Regions from separate parts of the Homo sapiens genome. Here regions 1 and 3 are each linked to region 2. The links come from fine-mapping of genetic effects on gene expression. A gene starts in region 2. Each other region holds a variant in brackets. All regions are shown on one strand. Distances are from middle to middle. Region 1 overlaps TIMMDC1 (translocase of inner mitochondrial membrane domain containing 1). Region 2 holds the start of TIMMDC1 (translocase of inner mitochondrial membrane domain containing 1). Region 3 overlaps CD80 (CD80 molecule).

Region 1 (8,110 bases), 21 kb after region 2:
CCCCTCCCCATACCCTCCAGCCCTCAGCAAATATATTTCTACTTTCTGTTTCTAAGATTTTGACTACTTTAGATACTTCATATGAGTGGAATCATACACTATTTGTCCTTTTGTGACTAGCTTATTTACTTAGCATAATAATGTCCTTGAAGTTTATCTATGTTGTAACCTGTTGAACGGATTGCCCTCTTTTTTAAGGCTGCATAATACTCCATTGTATGTGTATGTTACATTTTCTTTAACCATCTGTCAGTGAACATTTATGTTGCTTCCACTTAGCAAAAATAGTTATTAGTATGAGGTTACTTAAATTGTAGCTGGAGGAAATTTAAGGTGTATGAAGGTCAAATACTTCTAGTCTGAGAACACAAGAACCAAACTCTCTTCATCACTATAATAATTATTATCTAAATCAGTTTCTCAATGGGTTGCTATTGGCATTGTGGGTGAGACAGTTACGCCAGACTCTTGAACTTCAGGATATTTTGGTGGTCCCACCCCCAAAAGCCAGTAGCATCCCTCCCTCAACCAGAAATGCCCTCCACATTTCCTGTCTCCTAGAGGAGCTGGTGCCATTCTGAACTAGAAATTTCATTTTTGAGAAATCTTTGGTGTGGGGCTACTTACTAGAACTTGTCATAAATATATATATTTTTCCTCTTTGTTTTGATTTATTTCTCATTCCTCATAAAAACAGCCAGTTTCTAGATCTGTTGTTTTATTATATATCAGTTAACTTTAGGAGGTTGTAGTGATTGTTTTTGTCTGTTGTTCAGACCAAGGAAGAGATTACCTCAATGTTTTTCTTTATTTGACAAGGACACTTTAATTCTCAAATGTTCCTGTACCTAATAGTGAACAAGTGGCTCTGGTGTTGCTCACACCTTAGCAGAGAATCTCACATGTTGCAAGGTCTAATGACTCGTTTTTCCTAAGCTTTCCCTCTCCTTTCTTCTCAGCACTCCTGTAGGAGGCCTGCTGATGGCATTTCAGAAGTACTCTGGTGAGACTGTTCAGGAAAGAAAACAGAAGGATCGAAAGGCACTCCATGAGCTAAAACTGGAAGAGTGGTAAGGAACATGTTGAGCCCAGGGAATCTTGGCTCTCTTGCCCCAGGCCTTATATAGTGGTGCTCTTTTAAACTTATGTACTCTAAACTGCCACTCAATTCAAAGAAGAGTTTATTTTTACCAAGTCCTTCAACTCATACTGTACATTGTCTTTTAATCTATTTAAGGAGAATGGAAAAATGAAAGAGATTGATTTTAGTTTTAATTTAATGAAGATCTTTCTTTGGATATCTTTTTAAGTTAAAAGTGGTGTAAATCTTGCTTGCATGTTTTTTCTTTTCCTGTGTTCTTAACTGCATAGGAAATTACCTAAAGGGAATATTCACCAAGGAGTGAGCTTTACCTGGCTTACTTAAAAAGTGACATCCTTAGCCTAGCAGGGTGGCTCATGCCTGTAATCCCAGCACTTTGGGAGGCCAAGACAGGTGGATCACCTGAGGTCAGGAGTTCGAGACCAGCCTGGCCAACATGGCAAAACCCCATTTCTACTAAAAGTACAAAAATTAGCTGGGCATGGTGGCACGTGCCTGTAGTCCCAGCTACTCAAGGAGGCTGAGGCAGGAGAATCACTTGAACCTGGGTAGCGGAGGTTACAGTGAGCCGTGATTGTGCTCCAGCCTGGGCCACAGAGCAAGACTCGGTCTCAAAAAAGAAAAAAAGTGACTTTTTTTTTTTTTTTTGCATACATATGTAAGTAAGACACAGCATGTTAAGTCTCCACAAAAATTCTATTTCTTGCTGTAGATGCAGAGGAATTAGGTGGACAATGGTTGTTCATGCACTGAATGCCACTGAGGAACATGAAAACTTTCACCTATTGCATCTAATCATCTCCTGGGATGCAATTTGTGGGATAGGGCAATCAGACTGATAGCTGACTTTGCACAGATTCAATATGTAAGATGAATATAACAGGCTGCCATCTAGTGCTCCTGAGTACAAATGATTTTCACTAGTTCACCTTCCTGGGTACCTAAGACAGCATTGGCTGCTGCTGCTGTTGCTGTTTTGGTATTATAATTGGATAGATGAGAAATCATTTTTTTCCAGTGTTTTCATTTGAAACCTCCATTTCTGCTAACCACACACACACAGACACACACACGGAAATTCTTAAGAGCTGTAGGTCCATCATCCAAGGACTTAAGTGCTATATGAGAAGAAAAGCATTGAGGTTGCAGTGAGCTGAGATTGCGCCACTGCACTCCAGCCTGGGCCACAGAGCAATACTTCATCTCAAAAAAAAAAAAAAATTAAAAAAGTAAATGAAACATTAAAAACTGCAGAAGTTTGTCAGTGATTTAGAGATCAGTGATTTTGAGATGGAAAAGCTTAAGAATGGCTGGCTATGGCCATTCTAAGGTCATTCACCTGGAGTCTTCCACCACTGGCAACCCTGCCAATTCTAGTGGCTGAGCTGCCACGTGCACCCCCTGAAGACTGGCTCATCCAGGGTCCACTGCCACCATTTACCTCCCCCCATCAGTTTAACAGCAGATTTGCCAGCAGAAACCTTACAAGTCAGGAGAGAATGGGATGATACATTCCAAGTGCTAAAAGGAAAAAACAAACAAACAGACAAACAAAACCCAAAAAACTCCTGCCAAGAGTATTATACCTAGCAAAGCTATTTTTCCAAAATGAAGGAGAAATAGTCTTCTCAAGACAGGCAAACACTGAGGGAATTTATCACCACTAGACTGCCTTATAAGAAATGCTTAAAGAACTCCTACATCTGAATGCAAAAGCACGGTAACTACCATTATGGAAACGTGAAAGAATAAAACTCACTGGTAGAGCAGATACAGAAAGGAATCAAACCTTATAATTACAAAAATCTACCAACCATGAAAATAAGAGGGGAAGAAAGGGGAACAAAGATTATACAAAACAACCAGGAAACAGTTAACAAAATGACAGGAGTAAATCCACACCTATCAATAACAATGTTGAATATAAACACTTTAAATTCCCCAATTAAAGATTTAGAGTGGCTGAATGAATAAAAAAAAGTTTAAAGACTCAACTATATATACTGACTACAAGAAACTCACTTCACCTGTAAAGATACAGATAGGCTGAAAGTAAAGGGATAGAAAAGGATGTTCATGCAAATGGAAACCATAAATGAGCAGGAATAGCTATACTTATGCTAGATAAAATAGGCTTTAAA[T/TA]AAAAAACTATAAAAAGAGACAAGGTCATTATATAATGGTAAAGAGATCAATTCAGCAAGAGGAAATAACAACTGTAAATATATATGCACCCAACACCAGAGCATCCATATATATATATATCTAAACAAATAATATTAGAGCTAAAGGGAGAGATAAACCCTAATGTAATAATAGCTGGGGACTTCAACACCACACTCCCAGCACTGGACAGATCATCTAGACAGAAAATCAACAAAGAAATATCAGACTTAAACTGTACTGTAGATCAAATGGATCTAGCAGACATTTACAGAACATCACATCCAACAGCTGCAAAATACACGTTTTTCTTATCTTGAAGTGTTCTTCAGGATAAACCATATGTTAGGCTACAAAACAAGTCTCAACAAATTTTTAAAGATCAAAATAACATCAAATATTTTTTCAGACCACAGCAGAATAAAACTAGAAATCAGTAACAGGAAGGACTTTGGAAACTGTGCAAATACACAGAAATTAAATAATATGCTCTGGAACAACCAATAGGTCAATGAAAAAATTAAGAAGGAAATTTAAAAATTTCTTGAAACAAATGAAAACAGAAACACAACATACCAAAACCTATGGGATACAGCAAAAGCATCACTAACAGGGAAGTTTATAGCAATAAATGCCTCCATCAAAAAGTAGAAATGTTTCAAATAAACAACCTAACACTGCACCTCAGGGAACTCGAAAAGCAAGAACAAACTAAACCCAAAATCAGAAGGAAATAAATAAAAAGATCAGAGCAGAGCTAAGTGAAATAGAGACTTAAAAACAAACAAAAAAACACAAAAGAAGAACTAAATGAAAAGTTGGTTTCTTGAAAACAAAATCAAGAAACCACAAGTTAGAAAAAAGACCCAATTAAGGTAAAAAACAAAAAAGGAGACATTACAACTGATACCACGGACATAGTCATATCATTAGAGATTATTATGAAACAACTGTATGCCAAGAAATTGGAAAAGCTACAGGAAATGGATACATTCCTGAGCCCCTATAATCTATCGAGATTGAGCCAAGAAGTAATAGAAAACTTGAACAGACCAATAACAAGTAACAAGATTGAACTGGTAATAAAAAGTCTCCCAACAAAGAAATGTCCAGGACCACATGGCTTCATTGCTAAATTCTGCCAAACAGTTAAAGAAGAATTAAGACCAATTCTCAAACTGTTCCGAAATATTGAAGATGAGAGAGTTCTTCCAAACTCATTCTACAAGGCTAGCATTACCCTTATACAACAACAAACAGACAAAGGCTCATTAAACAACAACAACAACAAAACCTACAGGCCAATGTATTCTACAAAACAATCCTTAACAAAATACCAGCAAACCAAATCCAAGAGTACATCAAAAAGATTATACATCATGAACAAGTGGGATTTATCCTAGGGATGCAAGGATGGTGCAGCATACACAAATCAATAAATGTGTTACATCATATAAACAGAAGGAAGGAAAAAAACCATATGATCATCTCAGTAAATGAGAAAAAGCATTTGGTAAAATTGAACACCCCTTCATGGTAACACCTCCCAAAAAGTTAGGGGTAGAAGGACTATTTCTCAGTACAGTAAAGGCCATATATGTCAAACTCACAGCTAATATCATACTGAACAGGGAAAAGTGAAAAGCTTTTCCCTCAAAGAACTGGAATGAAATAGGAATGCCCACTCTTACCAGTCTTGTTCAACATAGTATTAGAAATCCTAGCCAGAGCAGTTAGGCAAGAAAAAGAAATAAAGGGCATTGGAGGCCAGGCACGGTGGCTCACACTTGTAATTCCAGGACTTTGGGAGGCCGAGGCAGGCGGATCACTTGAGGTCAGGAGTTCGAGACCAGCCTGACCGACATGGTGAAACCCCATTTCTACTAAAAATACAAAAATTGTCATGGTGCACACCTGTAATCCCAACTGCGTGGGAGGCTGAGGCAGGAGGATTGTTTGAGCCTGGGAGGTGGAGGTTGCAATGAACCAAGATGGTGCCACTGCACTCCAGCCTGAGTGACAGCATGAGACAAAAGAAAATTAGGCACAGTAGTGCATGCCTATAGCCCCAGTTACTTGGGAGACTGAGGCTGAAGGATCCCTTGAGCCCAGTAATTCAAGGCAGCAGTGAGCCATGATTGTGCTACTGCACTCCAGCCTGGGCAACAAAGTGAGTCCCTGTCTCTTTAAAAAAAAAAAAGTGGGCGGGGGAGCTTGGGGGGAAACTTGTATTTCTCAAAAAATACCTACAAGTGCTAACAAGTATATGAAAAAGTATTCAACATAACTAATCAGGGAAATGCAAATCAAAACCACAATGAAATGTGGTTTGGGGACAGTTTGGGAAATTGGAGTGATATTTATCCCAATTAGAATGTCTATTATCAGAAAGACAAAAAATAAATTTTGGCAAGGATGTAGAAAGAAAAGGGAACTCATATACTTTTGGTAGGAATGCAAATTATTACAGCCTTTATAGAAACAGTATGGAAGTTCCTCAGAAAACTAAAAATAGAACTACTGTAAGATCCAGCAATCTTCCCTACTAGGTATTTATCCAAAGGAAAAGAAACCAGCATATCAAAGAGTTATCTGCGCCCCCATGCTTATTGTAGCACTATTAATAGCCAAGGTATGGAATCAACGTCAGTGTCCATCAACAGATGGATGGATAAAGAAAATGTGGTATATATCCACCATAGAATACTATTCAGCCATAATAAAGAATGTAATCCTGTCATTTGTGGGAACATGGATGAGCCTGGAGGACATTGTTATGTAAAATAAGTCATACACAGAAAGATAAATACTGCATGTTCTGTTGCTCATGTGGGAGCTAAAAAATGGGCTCATAGAAGTAAAGAGTAGAATTATGGTTACTGGAGGCTGAGGAGGGGACAGGGAAAGGCATAAGAAGAGGAGATTTAAGGGATTGATTAATGAATACAAAATTATAACTAGATCGGAGGCATAAATTCTAGTGTTCTGTGGCACTGTAGGATGACTATAGTTAATAATTTATTGTATATTTTCAAGTAGCTGGAAGAGAGGATATTTGAATGGTCCCAGCAGTATGAAATGATAAATGTTTGAGGTGATGCATATGCTAATTACCCTGATTTGATCATTACACATTGTATATGTACAAAAATATCACTTTGTACTTCATAAATATGTACAATTATTAGTATCAATTTTAAGACAGATGGATAAAAACAACTTGAATCATAGTAATGAAAGAATACTTTGGCAGAATGAAAGTGTCAAAATTGTATAGCATATACACGTATGGGTGTTTGTGTGTGTGTGTGTGTGTGTGTGTGTGTGTGAGATATTTCTAAGGAGAGTTAATAAACGTTTAAGTGTCTTGTATGTGCCTACTTCTTCGCTTGAAAATAATACAGGAAAATCAAACAAATTGAGAGTCAAAAAAATTGCCTCAATGAGCAGAAAATGTAGAAAACTGACTATAGAGATATAGAAGAACAAATGACCAAATCTGTGAAGAGTTGAGAAGAAACTTTAATCCCGATAATCACTTAAGGAAGACACTAATACTTGATTTAGAAACAGAACTGATCTATTATTTGGAAATTAGTTTTTAACTCTTCATAAATATAAATCTATAGTTTTGTTCTATCTGACTTTTCTCTACCTTGGATTACCATTGTTATAGCCTTTGACCAGTTCCTAAAAGGTCTGGTCACAGAGTTTAAGAGTGGCAGGGTACTTACATTCCCCCAGCCCTGGGAGCAAGAGGACAGCGAGACTTCAAGCCTTCACACCTTAGCACAAAGTGTGTCAGTTCCCACACATCACTCCTGTGAGAACTCTAGGACCCAGCATACTAGGAATATCTTATGGATCAGAGCTGTCACCACAACGGTATCCATTATGGTAATGTGGAAATCATAATTGGCTTGTGAGGTTAGGAGAGAGAAGAAAGTTACTGTATTTGAAGTTCAGGGAGCAGTATTTGCTTCTAAATTGCTATACCAAAGCAGGGAGGAAAAGACAAATGCTATCCTTTTTGTTTTAAATCTGTAAGAACTAAAGAAATGGAGCAGTATTTGATTTATCCTTTTTATCTGATTACAGGAAAGGCAGACTACAAGTTACTGAGCACCTCCCTGAGAAAATTGAAAGTAGTTTACAGGAAGATGAACCTGAGAATGATGCTAAGAAAATTGAAGCACTGCTAAACCTTCCTAGAAACCCTTCAGTAATAGATAAACAAGACAAGGACTGAAAGTGCTCTGAACTTGAAACTCACTGGAGAGCTGAAGGGAGCTGCCATGTCCGATGAATGCCAACAGACAGGCCACTCTTTGGTCAGCCTGCTGACAAATTTAAGTGCTGGTACCTGTGGTGGCAGTGGCTTGCTCTTGTCTTTTTCTTTTCTTTTTAACTAAGAATGGGGCTGTTGTACTCTCACTTTACTTATCCTTAAATTTAAATACATACTTATGTTTGTATTAATCTATCAATATATGCATACATGAATATATCCACCCACCTAGATTTTAAGCAGTAAATAAAACATTTCGCAAAAGATTAAAGTTGAATTTTACAGTTCGTATATTCATGTGGTCCTTTGAAAGGGTATTCTAGAAATCACTGGAAAGAGGAGAGGAAAGAACCAGGTAGGCAAATGGTCTGTGAAACCCTTGGGTCCTGGAAGCAGTGTGAGTGTAAATGTGTAGTGTTTGGTTTCATCTAAATAAACAAAGATGATTTCTTTGACACTTGAAATAAAATACAAATTCAACAAAAAGTAGATCAGCATTATTAAAGAAACGGTTCAACTTTGTTTCTTCCCTTAGTATTGCTGACAAAGTATCTGCTGTA
Region 2 (8,355 bases):
TAATCCCAGCTCTTTGGGAGGCCAAGGCAGAAGAATCACTTGAGCCCAGGAGTTCAAGACCAGCCTGGGCAACATGGTGAGACCTCGGCTCTACAAAAAAAAAAAAAAAAAAAAAAAAAAAAAAAAAAAAAGAGGCAGGAAGATAGCTTGAGTTCGCAATGTTGAGGCTGCAGTGAGCCATGATCATGCCACTGTACTGTACTTCCACCTGGGCAATGGGAATAAGACCCTGTTTCTCAAAAAAAAAAAAAAAAAAAGCACAGATACACAAAAGTCTATCTTTACATGCATCTAAAGATGCCCTCTCTTAGGATAATCTTACTGCATCCAGAGGTAAGGTGTTGTGGATGGAGCAGAGAGTTATATTTACAAGTCACTCATTTAATACTTACCAGATACTTCTTAAGCATCTACTATGCACAGAGACAAGGAAAGTTTACAAGAGGCTCCCAAACCTCAAGGGGCTGTGCCGTTGAGATGATAAACAATATGAGAGGCATCATACATACGTGGAAGGTGATTAAGGCAACAGGAGTGCCAATTATTCATGAAGACAATGTGGATCTGGAGTTTAGAGGAAGAATAAACTTCCAACTGGAGCAGATGGGAAACTTTGTGGAGGTAAAAATTAATTTATACCATGAAGGATAAGTAAATGAAATGGTTCTTGGAGTTCTCAAAATTCATTCTCTCTCCACATGTTGAAAAGTTTTATATCATATATAATGTAACAAAATGTAAAATACGTAGCAAGGGCAGTACTTGGTGAACCTGGCAGGGAAGGGAACCTGCTGACCCCTGAGAAAAAAATTCACTGTGAGGGAAGAAACTATTAGGTTCTATAAACAGAATTCAGCAACAAGGGCTGTTGGTGGAAGAATGGTGTTCCAGGCAGTATGGTGATTGCACTGAAATCTTTCCCTGATGCAGTTACTCTGCTGGCAAACACATGTCCTGGGGACAAGAAAGCCATATGTGAAACAGTGGTCCAGTAAACCCCATAACACCTTTTGGCTTAGACCAAGCTTGTCCAACCCATGGCTCACGAACTGCACGCGGCCCAGGAAAGCTTTGAATGCGCCCCAACACAAATTTGTAAACGTTCTTAAAACATGAGATTTATGCATGGACTTTTTTCTTTTTCTTTTCTTTTTGTTTTTTGTTTTTAGCTCATCAGCTACAGTTAGTGTTATGTGTGGGCCAAGACAATTATTCTTCCAATGTGGCCCAGGGAAGCCAAAAGATTGGACACCTCTGGCTTAGACTGTATTGATCGGAGAACCTTCAAAAAGAGCAGACTACAGCCTACAGGGCTGGGCTTGGTGGCTCACACCTGTAATCCCAGCACTTTGGGAGGCTGAGGCAGGCAGATCACTTGGGGCCAGAAGTTTGAGACCATCCTGGCCAACATGGTGAAACACCATCTTTACTAAAAATACAAAAATTAGCCAGGCTTGTGGCACATGCCTGTAATCCCAGCTACTCAGGAGGCTGAGGCACAAGAATCACTTGAACTTAGGAGGCAGAGGTTGCAGTGAGCCGAGGTCTTGCCACTGCCCTCCAGCCTGGGTGACGAAGCTAAGACTGTATCAAAAATAAAATAAAATAAGCAGACTACAGAGGAGGGTGAGCATTTCCCTTGTTCTAAAAGAAGGTAAGCCGTAAGGGATTGGGGAAGTAGGAAATGTGGGAGGGCTCAGATGGAAGAGCAGCAACAGTGCGAGCAGTAGCCAAAGGAGAGGGGAGTTTTTTGAGTTATCAGGTGGCAAAAGGAACATTACAAATGAGTCTTCCGTTACCCAAATGAGAAACAAGTTATGGAATTTAAAATTTGCCTGTTAATATTACCTCATCTACAGGCTAGTGAATCCTGGGGCATTTGAGTTGTACATAAGTGATTGTGTCAGTATCTTCCCAACACCCACCCAAACCCTCCTACCCATTTCAAGTCCTCCTTCACCCCAGAATAATTCTGGGGTCATCTTATGCATTTAGCTTTTTCTACATATAGGTTAGAAACAGACTGTACAGCCATTTTCTTGGGCTTTCAGGCCTTGGTAACTTATCTTGGTGCCCACTTCTACCTAACATGGGATAAGCAGTAATCCAGAGCCAGAAGTCAGGAGATCTGAATTATTCAACAAATATTTACTGAGCACCTACTGCGGTTCTAGGTCCTGGAGATACAGAGATGAATATATTTGGTCTGTGATCTCAAGGATAGTTTATTGAGACAGATTAATAGGAAATTATGATGCAGTGTTGTAAGTGCTACGATGAGTGCTGAATCAAATCTCATATCCCAGAGTAGTCTTCATGGCGCTGTCACTAATTGAGCTGGTCACTCTAGTCAGTCACTTCTCAGGGACTTATGTGTAGCATTTCCAGCTATCAAATTCCTAAGTCCACTTACTGTATTCTACTACAGTGTGGCAGTTTTGATTGACAACTAGAAAGGAATCAAGGAGGTGAAGGGATTGGCAAAATGAATAAGGGAGTATGCTTGTTAACAAGGATTGAATGAAATTACACGAATATTGAGAATATTTTAAATGCATTCATTTTAATGAAAACTGTACTTCGAAGCATATGTTAGCAGAGGTTGTAGTGACGGCAAATTATACAAACACTTGATAGAAATTCCAGAAATTCTCCTGCCTTTTGAGAAGCAGTAGGCATATGAACTAAAGGGAGTGAAATCCACCTTAGGAAGACCTGCCAAAAAGCTGATTCTTCAAAAAAGTGTTCTCGAAATCTTAGTGTAACTGGCACCAACACCCATCCCCAATGCCTCGTTTTTTTTCCAGCAGAACTGACAAGGTACAAACGGACCCCGCCCAGCCTGGAAGGCTTCTCTAATGTTGGCAGAGTAGGTTGGACTTGTTTTTGCACAAATCGCCTTTCCCTCTTTCCCTACTCCACTTGCACTGAATATTGCACTTTCTTCCTTACTGAAGCGGGATTCCTGCCTTTTTTTTTTTTTTTTGAGACAGATTTTCGCTCTTGTTGCCCAGGCTGCAGTGCAGTGGTGTGATCTCGGCTCACTGCAACCTCCGCCTCCCGGGTTCAAGCGATTCTCCTACCTCAGCCTCCCGAGTAGCTAGGATTACAGGCGCCCGCCACCATGCCCGGCTAATTCCTGGCATTTTAAATACGATAAATTACTTCAACCTATGACCACCTCAAGCTGAATATAAGTAGCCGCAGACACCGTTTGCATGACCCAGGAACCACAAACACGGAGCGAAGGCCTGCCGGGACCACGCTGAGCTTCACTACTGGCAGCCAACTCACTTCCGGGGGTGCACTCAGCACAGCAGTGGCCCAACCCGCCCTCAACCGGAAGTCTTTTGGGCTCCGGCTTCGCCGTCGCCCCGCCCCCTGGCCTTTGCCCCGGTCGGGCGGGACTTCCTGTGTCGTATTTCCAAGGACTCCAAAGCGAGGCCGGGGACTGAAGGTGTGGGTGTCGAGCCCTCTGGCAGAGGGTTAACCTGGGTCAAATGCACGGATTCTCACCTCGTACAGTTACGCTCTCCCGCGGCACGTCCGCGAGGACTTGAAGTCCTGAGCGCTCAAGTTTGTCCGTAGGTCGAGAGAAGGCCATGGAGGTGCCGCCACCGGCACCGCGGAGCTTTCTCTGTAGAGCATTGTGCCTATTTCCCCGAGTCTTTGCTGCCGAAGCTGTGACTGCCGATTCGGAAGTCCTTGAGGAGCGTCAGAAGCGGCTTCCCTACGTCCCAGAGCCCTATTACCCGGAATCTGGATGGGACCGCCTCCGGGAGCTGTTTGGCAAAGAGTAAAAGTGCCTAGGGTGTGAAGTGGGGTAGGGGGCCGCGAAAGCGGTGTCCTGCAGCGTGGGCAGCCTGGGTCAGCCTTAGGACACCAAGGATGGTGTGCTTCATTTTTAGATTATATTTGAGGTTCTGATATTTGTAACCCAAGCTTGTATCTTTTTTCTTTCTTTTTTTTTTTTTTTTTTCCAGACAGGGTCTTGCTCTGTCGCCCAGGCTGGAGTGCTGTGGTGCTATCTCGGCTCACTGCAACCTCTGCCTCTGGGACTCAAGTGATCCTCCCACCTCAGCCTCCCGATTAATTGGGACTACAGGCGCGCACCACCACGCCCGGCTAATTTTTTTTTAATGTATTTTTTATAGACAGGGTTCTTACCATGTTGCCTAGGCTGGTCTTGAACTCTTGGACTTAGGCGATCCGCCTACCTCGGCCTCCCAAAGTGCTGGGATTACAGGCGTGAGCCACCGCGCCAGCCCAAACTCGTATTTTTCTTTCTTTTTTTTTTTTTTTTCGAGACTGAGTCGCGCTCTATCGCCCAGGCTGGAGTGCAGTGGTGCGATCTTGGCTCACTGCACTCTTCACTTCCCAGGTTCAAGCGGTTCTCCTGCCTCAGCCTCCAGAGTAGCTGGGATTACAGTTGCCCACTACCATGCCCAGCTAATTTTTGTATTTTTAGTAGAGACAGGATTTCACCATTCGCCAGGCTGGTCTGGAACTCCTGACCTCACGTGATCTGCCTGTTTCCGCCTCCCAAAGTGCTGGGATTACAGGCCTGAGCCACCGCGGCTGGACTGCGCCCGGCCTAGAAGGGCAATTATTTTATAGTAACTTAATACTTAAGACAGCTATTTGTTAGAGCAGTCTCAGGATGACATCTTGGAAGCTTCATTAGCAGTTCTAGCTTCTTATGCATTTGAGAGTAACAAATCGAATTAAATAGTAGTTTTTCCTTGTTATTTTAGATTGGCATGTGCCACCCACTGCATAGTGAACTTTCCCAGTGCGTTTTTAAAAAAACATTTATTTGTTTATTTTTAGAGCCAGGATCTTTGCTATGTTGCTATGCTGGATTTGAACTCGGGCTCAAGTCCTACCTCAGCCTCCTAAGTTAGCTGTGACTACAGGCGTGTGCTACTGTGCCCAGCCCAGTGCTTTTATTAGTACAGTCCTATCTGAGTATTTCATGAAATTATTTAGTAAAATAGAATTTAGATTTTTTGTCTTACATCCACGTTTTTATTCTTTCATACATTGCCCTAAAATCTCACGAGTTGGTGTGATTTCTAAAAGTTAACTTAAGATTTAAACGGAAATATTGGTCTCTCTATCCAACTCACAAATTCTTCCTATTTCTAGGGGTGTAATAGTCATCAAAAGCACCTTTTAAAAAACTTTTTATTGGAGTAGGAAATGCATTTCGAAAAATGTGCCTAAGTATACTGATGGATGAATTTTCACAAACTGAACATAGCTGTACCCAGCACTAAGAAAGAAATGGCAACTATTGTAACATCCCAAAAGCTCCCCTTGTGCCTTTTCCGGTCATTGTCTTTTCAGGAGTTGCCACTATCCTAATTCTAACACCATAGCTTCGTTTTGTCTGAGACTACGTTCCTTTTAATATAACTGAACTGTTTAATTCATCTGAGAATTCTACCTATGATGAAAAATGTTGTGGTGGTAGCATTTGGGTTAATTCTGATTATAGAGTCTCTTGGAGAGCAATGTCCATAAACTAATCCCAAACAACATTGTCTTTTTGATGTTGTAGTGAACAGCAGAGAATTTCAAAGGACCTTGCTAATATCTGTAAGACGGCAGCTACAGCAGGCATCATTGGCTGGGTGTATGGGGGAATACCAGCTTTTATTCATGCTAAACAACAATACATTGAGCAGAGCCAGGCAGAAATTTATCATAACCGGTTTGATGCTGTGGTATGTACTGGTGATCTAAAGAAATTTGGGGCACACTGACTTAGTAATTCACTTTACACTTAATCATTCAATTAGGTTGTGGGGATGGAGGGTTGTTTTAAGGTGTCAGAGTAAAGAAATAAAGTCTGTACTTAATAACAGTGGAAGTACTAATGTTAAAGTGCCTGCATGTTGTTTGAGAGACTACTTTGTTATCTTCAGAACAGGCATGTTTGGCATCACCACTGTGGCTTTTCTTTCTCAAATACATTTCTTCCAATCCCCTGCTAAATCGTCAAGGCTCAGCTGTAACATATTTACCTCATTCACAAAGCCTCCATGAGTATAGGAGCTCACACTAAAGCAATAGTTAACATTTATAACTTTATAGAGTGCTAACTCGTTTGTTACATCATTAGATCTGTACATCAGTTCTTTTGTGAGAATATTAAAGCTCAGAGAATTTTTAACTTTTTATTTTGAAATTATAGCAGGCTTGAAAGTTGCAAAACTAGTACAAAGATTTCCTATATACCTTTCATCCGGATTCTCCATTGTTAACATTTTACCATGTTTGTTTTATCATTCTCCCTCTGTATAATATGTACTAATTTGTTCTGAGCTACTTGACAGTAGGTTATAGACATGATGAATACTTCAGTGTGTTATTTCCTAAAAACAAGGAAATTCTCTTATACAACCACAATTATAATATCAAGATCAGGAAATTAACACAGATATAGTACTATTATCTTATTTAAAGACCTGTAAATTTTGCTAGTTATCCCACAGTATCATTTATTTTAAAAATAAATAAAAAAATGTATTTTTCAGAAGTTAGGCTTGAGTTCTTATTAAAAAATTAATTAATTAAATTTTTTTTTGTCTGGTCCAGAATCTGACCCTGGATCACATGTTGAATTTGCCTGTTATGCTGCTTTGGTCTCATTTAGTCTGGAAGAGTTTCTCTGTTTTTGTCTTTCATGGCCTTGACTATGGGTGATTTATTTTGTAGAATGTCCCTCAATTTGGGTTTGTTTGATGGTTTCTCATGACTGCATTCAGACTATGTTTTTTGACAGGAATACCCTAGAACTGAAATTAAATTAGAAACCCATGATATCTCTGTCCCTTTACTGGTGATGTTTACTTCAGTGACTTGCTTAAGATGGCCTCTGCCAACTATACACTGTAAAATTACTATGTTTTTCCTTGGTAATTTATAAGTATTTTGAGTACTTGTTAGTTCCTTTGAGACTATGTAAATATCCTGCTTTTCATCAAATTTCTACTACTTAAATGCTATTATAAACTATAATATTTCTACTATCTAAAAACTATTCTAAATTCTTAGCATTTATAATTTTTTTATTTTTTTAAAAATTATTTATTCCTTTATTTATTTTTTGAGACAGGGTCTCACTCTGTTGCCCAGGCTGGAGTACAGTGGCACAATCTTGGCTTGCTGCAACCTCCATTTCCCAGGCTCACTCGATTCTCCTGTCTCAGCCTCCCAAGTAGCTGGGACTATAGGCATGTGCCACCATTCCCAGCTAATTTTTGTATTTTTTGTAGAGACAGGGTTTTGCCATGTTGCCCAGGCTGGTCTCAGAGTCCTCAGCTCAAGCAGTTCACCCCCTCCTTGGCCTCCCAAAGGGTTGGGATTATAGGTGTGAGCCACTGTGCCCAGCCTATTTTTATTTTTTAATTAATTAATTTTTTTTTTGAAATTTTTTGAGGCAGGGTCTTCCTGCCTCAGTGCAGGCTGGAGTGCAGCGGCGCGATCATAGCTCACCACAACCTCAAACTTCTGGACTCAAGGTTTCCTCCCGCCTCAGCCTTCCGAGTAGCTAGGACTGCAAACACACACCACCATGCCTAGCTAATTCTTAAATTTTTTTTGTAAAGGCAGGATCTCGCTATGTTGCCCAGGCTGGTCTTAAACTTGTCGGCTCAAGTGATCCTCCCTAGTTGCCTCCCAAAGTGCTGAGATTACAGGTGTGAGCCACCATACCCAGGCAGTTTTAGCATTTAATGATGATTCTTCCTGTAACAATTATGACTGTGGTGGCCAAATGGGCATTTTCTAAAGTCTATCATTCTTTCTACATTTATTGGTTAGTATTATGCTCTAAGGAAGTGTTTTCCCTTCCCCCCTCTATTTACATATTTATTTATCTATTTATAATTTATTTCTATCAGTAGGGACTCATGGATTCTTATTTTATTCTGTAGATTTATAATTCATTACAGGTTGAGCAGCACAAATCTGAAATCCTGAATGCTCAGATTCAAAACTTTTTGAGCATTGACACGTCATTCAAAGGAATTGCTCATTGGAGCATTTCAGATTTCGGTTTTTTGGATTTGGGATGCTCAACCAGTAAGTGTTAAAAGCGCATATTCCCAAATCTGAAAAAATCCTAAATCCAAGTATCAGATAAGGGATCTGGTCTCAAGTATCAGATAAGGGATACTCAACCATTTTTTCATCTCCTGATAGGATAGGCTACACATGGAACTTTTACGTAAGCCTCAATACTTAAAGAATAGTATTTCTAGAGATTTTCTAGTATTTCTATCTGTTTGGGTGTACCTGACTAATCCATAGCTAAAATTCCTCTACCGCAGTTCTAGAATAAGGAAA
Region 3 (8,000 bases), 33 kb after region 2:
AAGGCAGGCGGATCACGAGGTCAGGAGATCAAGACCATCCTGGCCAACATGGTGAAACCCCGTCTCTACTAAAAATACAAAAAAAAATTAGTCAGGCGTGGCAGCACGCACCTGTAGTCCCAGCTACTCAGGAGGCTGAGGCCGGATAATTGCTTGAACCTGGGAGGCGGAGGTGCAGTGAGCTGAGATCGGGGCATACACTCCAGCCTGGGTGGCAGAGTGAGACTCCATCTCAAAAAAAAAAAAGAACTAAGAATTGGTTTGTGTTTTGAGATGGAGTCTCACTCTGTCACCCAGGCTGGAGTGCAATGGCATGATCTTGGCTCACTGCAGTCTCCGCCTCCTGGGTTCCTGGGTTCAAGCAATTCTCCTGCTTCAGCCTCCTGAGTAGCTAGGACTACAGGTGCACGCCACCATGCCTGGCTAATTTTTGTATTTTTAGTAGAGACAGAGTTTCACCATGTTGGCCAGGCCGGTCTCGAACTCCTGACCTTAAGTGATCCACCTGCCTTGGCCTCCCAAAGTGCTGGGATTACAGGCATGAGCCACCCCACCCAGCCCAAGAACTGAGAATTGGTGAGATCACCTGTAGCCATGTAGTTTCTCAACTGTATTAGTGCATCTTGCCCTCCTCCAAGAAAATGATTCTTGGCACCAAAATTTGTCAATTTGCCTTTTCTCTAACTCCAAATCAAAATTAGAATATCAGCAGGATGGTGGCCATGGAAGTTGGAATTCACTAAGGAGTGTGTAACAACTCACCTGCCAAATCGACTAGCCCTTAAAAAAAAATTAGAATATCATTTAGCATCAGAAACGTTTTCAAATTAGTTAGCAAACCCCAGTCTCCAAAAATATATAAAGTCAGGGAAAAAATAAACAGACTAAACTAGAATGTGTCTTGAGGGCAGTGACTTCTTGTCATTGTAATTCCAGTGCCTAGTAGAGTGCCACACACGTAGGAGGTGTCCGGAAAATGTCCAGTGAATGAACAGAACTTGTTGAGACAAGTAAAGGAGATGCTCATGTTTCCATAGGCTTGCTGTAAACATGAGAAGCGAATAGGCTAAAACCTCAGAGAGATGCCGAACCATGGTAATAAAGTTTGATCTTCCAGAATTGAGATCAGGATGATGGTATGATAGTACTTACAGTAGGTCAGGCAGCATATCACAAAAATTCCATTTACTGAGATTAAGGTAATGGCCCAGGATGGGAGCAGGTTATCAGGAAAATGCTCTTGCTTGGCTATGGAGGGAAAAGAATAATGTCAGCTGTAATGTATTTCCTACTGCCTGATACTCATTCTGTGCCTTTTCTATTGATGCAACTGTGGAGTATTCTTTGCCTGGTCAGCTCTCCAGTATGCAGCTGCTAGCATTTTTCTTGCATAATTCTTCAATCAGGCACATACTTGTGGGCAACTAATAGTCAGATGTCACATATTAAAAGTGAAAAAGATACTTTGAATGTCTGCATTTACTGAGTTAAGTTGACATAAGGAAGATTCTAAGGAAATCTTTTACAAGCCATCTTGCAGTATCTCACTTTTATAGCTGATTATAACTATGTGTTACTACTAACTGGTTGATGTTGTGTTCTAGGTATACTTTATTTTTCCTTCTCTAGCTCTGTCGTGCCTTCTCCCTTTCTCCTACCATATTCTCTCTCAACACATACACATCACACACACCCTTACCTCACAGTAGCTGCCCTAAAGCTACAGGAGCCACTTTGCATTCACTTTCGGATACAGGTTTTTCACCCTCTAGCTACTGGAAACACAGAACAAGTCTGGCAAAGAACTAAGTGTGGATATGGCTTGGTATTAGGTGGGACCATCCTAGAAGAGAGCACTGAAGGTTATCAGCTGTAGTTTCAGTCCCACAGAGAGCACAAGAAGTACACAAGGAAATGAGGGTGGGGAGGAGAAAGGTGTTGGTGGATATGGTGCTGCGGGTCCATCCCTCCAGATCAGGAGCAGCAGCTGCAGTATTTATTCTTCAGCTGCTTTGAGGAATCATTAGCAACATCTGGAAAAACGGCAGGGACACAAATTATAGCAGCTCATTTTCTGGTTTCTCTGAAATGGCTTACAAATAAATGAATATTTACTAACTTATTGTTTTTACTTTTTTTCTTCATGCTGAAGTTTTATTTAAAACATAAAAGAAATGTTCCCCCAAAATGCTAGTGAATAAAGCAAAAGGATACGACACAGTGCTCTCTCACTATGAGTTAGCCAGCCTATCCAAGTACAGGGTAATATACAGTACTCAATGCTGGTAGAATTTCACAGTAGTTTAGTGTTAAAGATTATCTGTGCCTAGATTATGAAGAGATTCTCAATGTGTGATGCTTAGTTCTGGGTTTACACCTTACTGGGCATGAACAAGAGCCCCTGCTCCTTGGCCATAGCCAAATCCCTTGGGCCCAAAGTTCTTTGCATAGCACCATTACAATAGATTTCACCTTCTTTTTCAGTCAGAGTTGTTGATTCAAGACTCTTCCCACACTTTGCACATCAGAAACAGTTTTTGTGCCAGGGCTTTCCAGCTCCAATTATCTTCTCGGCAGCATATACAGAATCCCCACATCTGGAACATTTCTCAGCACCTCCATATTTCTGAGCAAATTTAGAAGCATTTGGATTTCTTGTAGGCCTGTGAGGCTGAACACTCTCTGGCTTGATGCCCAGCCTCTCGCCATGTTAAGCGTGCCAGCACCCTGGCCATAACCATAGCCTTTTGTCCCATATTTCTTTCCATAGTAGGATTTGCAGTAGATCTCTTCATTGTGAATTGCCACTGTTGTGCTATCTAAATTTTTCCTGCAAACCATTGAGTCGGAGGCAGGAGCATGCACCACAGGCGGAGCTAGCAAGGCTGGGCTGGAGAGAGGGTCCAGGGAGTCCAAGATCCCTGTTTTTACTTTTCTGATTACCAAACCCAGTGGTAAGTTTTATTTATTTATTTATTTATTTATTTAAGACGGACTTTCACTGTGTTTCCCAGGCCAGGCTGGAGTGCAGTGATGTGATCTCAGCTCACTGCAATCTCTGCCTCCCGAGTTCAAGGAATTCTCCTGCCTCAGCCTCCCGAGTAGCTGGGATTACAGGGGCGTGCCACCACACCCAGCTAATTTTTGTATTTTCAGTAGAGATGGGGTTTCCCCATGTTGGCCAGACTGGTCTCGAACTCCTGACCTCAGGTGATTCTCCTGTCTTGGCCTCCCACAGTGCTGGGATTACAGGCATGAGCCACTGCGCCTGGCCTAGTTTTATTCTTTTGCTTATTGGACTTCTCATCAGCATTTAGCCAGTTGGAATCTTCTCCTTCTTGGACTTCTGTGACACCACATCCTTCTGTTTCTGTTTGTTGCACTCCGTTTTCTCTGAAGGCTTTTCTTCCTCTTCTTGTCCTCTAATTATTGTTGTTCCCATGGTTCTGTTTGTGGTCCCATTTTGCCCTTACTGGCCCCAGTCTTCCTGGGTAATATCCTCCACACCTGAGATTTGAAATGCCATCTGAGGCTGGGCACAGTGGCTCACACCTGTAATTCTGGCACTTTGGGAGGCCAAGGTGGGCAGATCACCTGAGGTCAGGAGTTCGAGACCAGCCTGGCCAACATAGTGAAACCCTGTCTCTACTAAAAGTACAAAAAATTATCGGTGGCGAGTACCAATCCCAGGTACTCAGGAGGCTGAAGCAAGAGAATTGCTTGAACCAGGGAGACAGAGGTTGCAATGAGCCAAGATTGCACTCCAGCCTGGGTGACAGAGTGAGAATCTATCTCAGAAAAAGACAAAGAAAAAAAAAAAAAAGAAGTGCCATCTGATTTCTAAATTTGTATATTGGATGGATGCCAGCATCTCCACCTGATTAAAACTGAATTTACTACCTGCTTTCCAAATCATATCTACCAGCTGTATTCTCCCATTTCAGTGAATAACAATACCATTTAGTTACCCAAATAAGAGTGTGGTATTTTCTTTGTGCTCACTTCCCAGTAGGCTCCCATGTATTTTCTGTTCTATATTCAGAATATCTCTGGAACTTACTGCTTTTTCCCAAATCTCTTGCAGCAACTGCCTTAGCTGAGATTTTTCTCATCTCCCACCTAGTAGCCTGCAAACCGGTCTCTTTGCCTCAGGTTTCCTAGGCTCTAATAACTCCTGCACATTGCTGTCACAGTAATCATTCTGAAACACCTATTTAATCATAGTGTACCTACCACTTAAAGACAGGA[T/G]AGTTGGTTTTTCTTTTTTCTCTAAAACACCAGATTGAATGGAGACATCAAGTGATTACCAGAGTTGACCTCTACAGATTAGAATGACACAAAAAATAACAAGCCATTGCTGTTATCCTGGGAGTCTAGAAGTTTCACAGGCTTCAGCTCATTCCTGGCTTCCACTCCACACCCATCCACAAGCCTCATTCAACCTAGAGAGAGTATGTGTGTGAGGGAAAGAGGGAGGCCTCAGTAGCAGCAAGCCAGGTCTATTGTGACACCTGTTAGAAACCTGGTAACATCCCACAGGGGCAGACCCAGAATCCAAGGTACAGAGCGGTGTGAGGGCATCTGCACATGTAGCTTATTAGATACCATGAGTATGACTCTCTCAGATGTATCTCCTTCCAGTTTATCAAGGGAAAACAAATTTGGTGAGACTACACTAAAAAGAATCATATGCGCAATCCGCTTAATTAATACATTTGGGCTTTTTTTTTTTTTCCAAATCAGTTATTTACTGATATGGTTTGGCTGTGTCCCCACCCAAATCTCATCTTGAATTATAACTCCCACAGTTGCCACATGTCATGGGAGGAACCCAGTGGGAGGTGACTGAATTATGGGGGCGAGTCTTTCCTGCACTGTCCTTGTGATAGTTAATGAGTCTCACGAGATCTGATAGTTTAAAAACAGGAGTTTCCTTATAACAAGCTCTCTTTTTGGCTGCTGCCATCCACATAAGACATGACTTGCTCCTCCTTGCCTTCTGCCATGATTTGTGAGGCCTCCCCAGCCACGTGGAACTGTGAGTCTAATTAAACCTCTTTATTTTGTAAGTTGCCCAGTCTCGGGTATGTCTTTATCAGCAGCATGAAAAGGGACTAATACATTTTCACCTCAAAGCTTTACTCACCCTGACCTGTAACATTTCTATGTACTATACACTTAATGTATATTTGTTAGTGCAGTCAGCCCTTGACCTCCTATAAATGCATTATTTGCTTTTGAATCTTATTCTAAAGAATCCCCACACAGTCCAATTAATGAGATTTGAGACATTTATACCCTAAAGCTCTCCAGCCACAAAGACAAAAACCTTAAGTTAGCAAACTATAGCACATGGGCCAAACCTGTCCTGCACCTGTTTTTAAAAATGAAATTTTGTGGCTGGGTGTAGTGGCTCACACCTGTAATCACAGCGCTTTGAGAGGCTGAGGCAGATGGATCACCTGAGATCAGGAGTTCGAGACCAGCCTGACCAACATGGTGAAACCCCATCTCCACTAAGAAAATACATAAATTAGCCAGTTGTGGAGGCAGGCACCTGTAATCCCAGCTACTTGGGAGGCTGAGGCAGGAGAATCGTTTGAACCTGGGAGGCAGAGGTTGCAGTGAGCCGAGACCACACCATTGCACTCCAGCCTGGGCAACAAGAGTGAAACTCTGTCTCAAAAAAAAAAAAAAGAAAAAGAAAAAAAAAAGAAAAATTTTGTTGGAACATAGCCATGTCATTCATTTATGTCTTGTCTGTGGCTGCTTTTGTGCTACAACCAGCAGAATTGAGTTGTTGCAACAGAGACTGTGACTGCAAAGCTTAAAATATTTACTATCTGGCTCTATTCAGAAAAAAATTTGCCAACCCCTGTCTTAGAATGTCACATATATCCATATTCCAATATAAATAATGTCCAAATCAAAATGCAATCCAAGCTAGTATTACTGATTTAATAATCAGTACTCTACTGTTTTCTGCCTTCAATCAGAATAATGTAAAATTGGTTAAATAATGCTATAACAAGAAAGTAAAAATAGAGACTTAATAAACTATATGATTGAAGCCTCATTTTAATAAAATTTTTACAACACATAAAAGATGACTGAGACTGGTAAGTTTGGAGTATCAATAGTCATGTCAAAGTTTGGTTTATATTTGAACTAATTTTCCCAGGAAATTTTGTCTCATTGAGGAAAATAAAGAATCTGCTGTAGCCGGGCATGGTGGCTCATGCCTGTAATCTCCACACTTTGGGAGGCTGAGGCGGGCAGATCACCTAAGGTCGAGAGTTCAAGACCAGCCTGACCAACGTGGTGAAACTCCATCTCTACTAAAAATACAAAAATTATCTGTGTGTGGTGGCTGGCACCTGTAGTCCCAGCTACACAGGAGGCTGAGACAGGAGAATTGCTTCAACCTGGGAGGCGGAGGTTACAGTGAGCCAAGATCACGCCACTGCACTCCAGCCTGGGTGACAGAGCGAGACTCCGTCTCAAAAAAAAAAAAAAAAATCTGCTGTAACACTGAAAGATCTAGAGTAAATCATACACTAGCATGAATTACTAGACCATCTAAAATAAATTATCCACTTCGCAACTACAAGTAAAGACATGAAGAATTAAGACATGCCATATAGTATATATTGTGCTATATACTTATGTGCAACTGTATTATCAAACTCAGTGTTTTGTTTCTTACTATACAGTCACAAAACCTATCCTTGGGAGTGGGGCTAGGGGTAGGGAGAGAGACCTGTGGTCCTCTGTATGATCAGCCGTACAATTTAAACAAGTATTAATATTTTGAGCATCTCAGTTCACCTTGTAAGCCATCTTAAGCCATTATAGGCCTAAGATGTATATATTCATATAAACCCATCGTTTTCATTGTATATTTTCAAATGATTTCACCTCTTGGGGAAAGAGAATTCTCTGAGTTTACTACCAGTAGGGTAAAATATTTGCTCCAAAATGACCTCTTTTCAGGCGTTGTCTTCAAGGAGTTTGTCACTCACCTTTCCCAGACTTGGTTCAGAATGAACCAGTAGTTCTTAAAAAGCACATTCGCCCACAAAAAAAAATTGTTTGGCACCATGGAACCGTGTGGGTGGCATGCCCTAAAAGAAAGCACCAAATCCCTAAGGGCAGTTCCAAAGGGCAAATTTTAATGCTTTCAATAATACTATTGTTACAAAAACTTTTTAAGATGAATGCTTGATGGATAATGGTTTTTAGTATATATAAATTTTAGAATATTTATTACAAGAAAATAAGGCCGGGTGCAGTGGCTCACACCTGTAATCCCAGCACTTTGGGAGGCTGAGGCGGGCGGATCACGAGGTCAGGAGTTCGAGACCAGCCTGACCAACATGGTGAAACCCCATCTCCACTAAAGATAGAAAAAATTAGCCGAGGGTGGTGGCTGGCGCCTGTAATCCCAGCTATTCGGGAGGCTGAGGCAGAAGAATTGCTTGAACCTGGAAGGTGGAGGTTGCAGTGAGCTGAGATTGTGCCACTGCACTCCAGCCTGGGCAACAGGGCGAGACACTGTCTCAAAAAAATAAATAAATAAATAAAAAGAAAATTAGTAACATTATCACACCTTGCACAGTGACTTTATTTTTTAAATTTATTTTTTAAATTATTTTATTTATTTCTTTTAGAGACAGGGTCTCACTCTGTTGCCCAGGCTGGAGTCTAGTGGCATGATCATAGCTCACTGCAACTTTGAACACCTGGGCTCAAGTAAGCCACCCACCTTACCCTCCCAAGTACCTAGGACTACACATGTGTGTCACCAAGCCTGGCTAATTTTTTAAATGTTCTGTAGAGTCAGAGTCTCATGCTTCCCAGCTGGTCTTGAACTCCTGGGCTCAAGTGATCCTCCCACTTCAGCCTCCCAAAGTGCTGGGATTACAGGCATGAGCCACTGTGCCCAGTCTCACAGTGACTTTAATAAGTCATAATAGCACATGTCATTTGTATATCTAAAA

Evidence for each region.
Region 1: its variant is fine-mapped to the expression of TIMMDC1 in monocytes (TOPMed, PIP above 0.99).
Region 3: its variant is fine-mapped to the expression of TIMMDC1 in whole blood (GTEx, PIP 0.96).

What each region holds. Positions count from the first base shown.
Region 1 is chr3:119,516,246-119,524,355 of GRCh38, forward strand. TIMMDC1 (translocase of inner mitochondrial membrane domain containing 1) reads left to right here. Exons shown (of 7, transcript NM_016589.4): 6 at 960-1,070; 7 at 7,361-8,110. The coding sequence ends at 7,511. It overlaps CD80 (CD80 molecule), which reads right to left. Exons shown (of 7, transcript NM_005191.4): 7 at 8,048-8,110. Among named protein-coding and RNA genes, the nearest start is that of TIMMDC1, 22 kb to the left of the region's middle. The variant T/TA (reference allele first, on the strand shown) is at 3,244.
Region 2 is chr3:119,495,132-119,503,486 of GRCh38, forward strand. It overlaps TIMMDC1 (translocase of inner mitochondrial membrane domain containing 1), which reads left to right and starts at 3,416. Exons shown (of 7, transcript NM_016589.4): 1 at 3,416-3,796; 2 at 5,564-5,729. The coding sequence starts at 3,603. RefSeq lists an enhancer at 3,156-3,205.
Region 3 is chr3:119,528,690-119,536,689 of GRCh38, forward strand. It overlaps CD80 (CD80 molecule), which reads right to left. Exons shown (of 7, transcript NM_005191.4): 5 at 1,153-1,248. It also overlaps the pseudogene CSRP2P1. Among named protein-coding and RNA genes, the nearest start is that of CD80, 27 kb to the right of the region's middle. The variant T/G (reference allele first, on the strand shown) is at 4,249.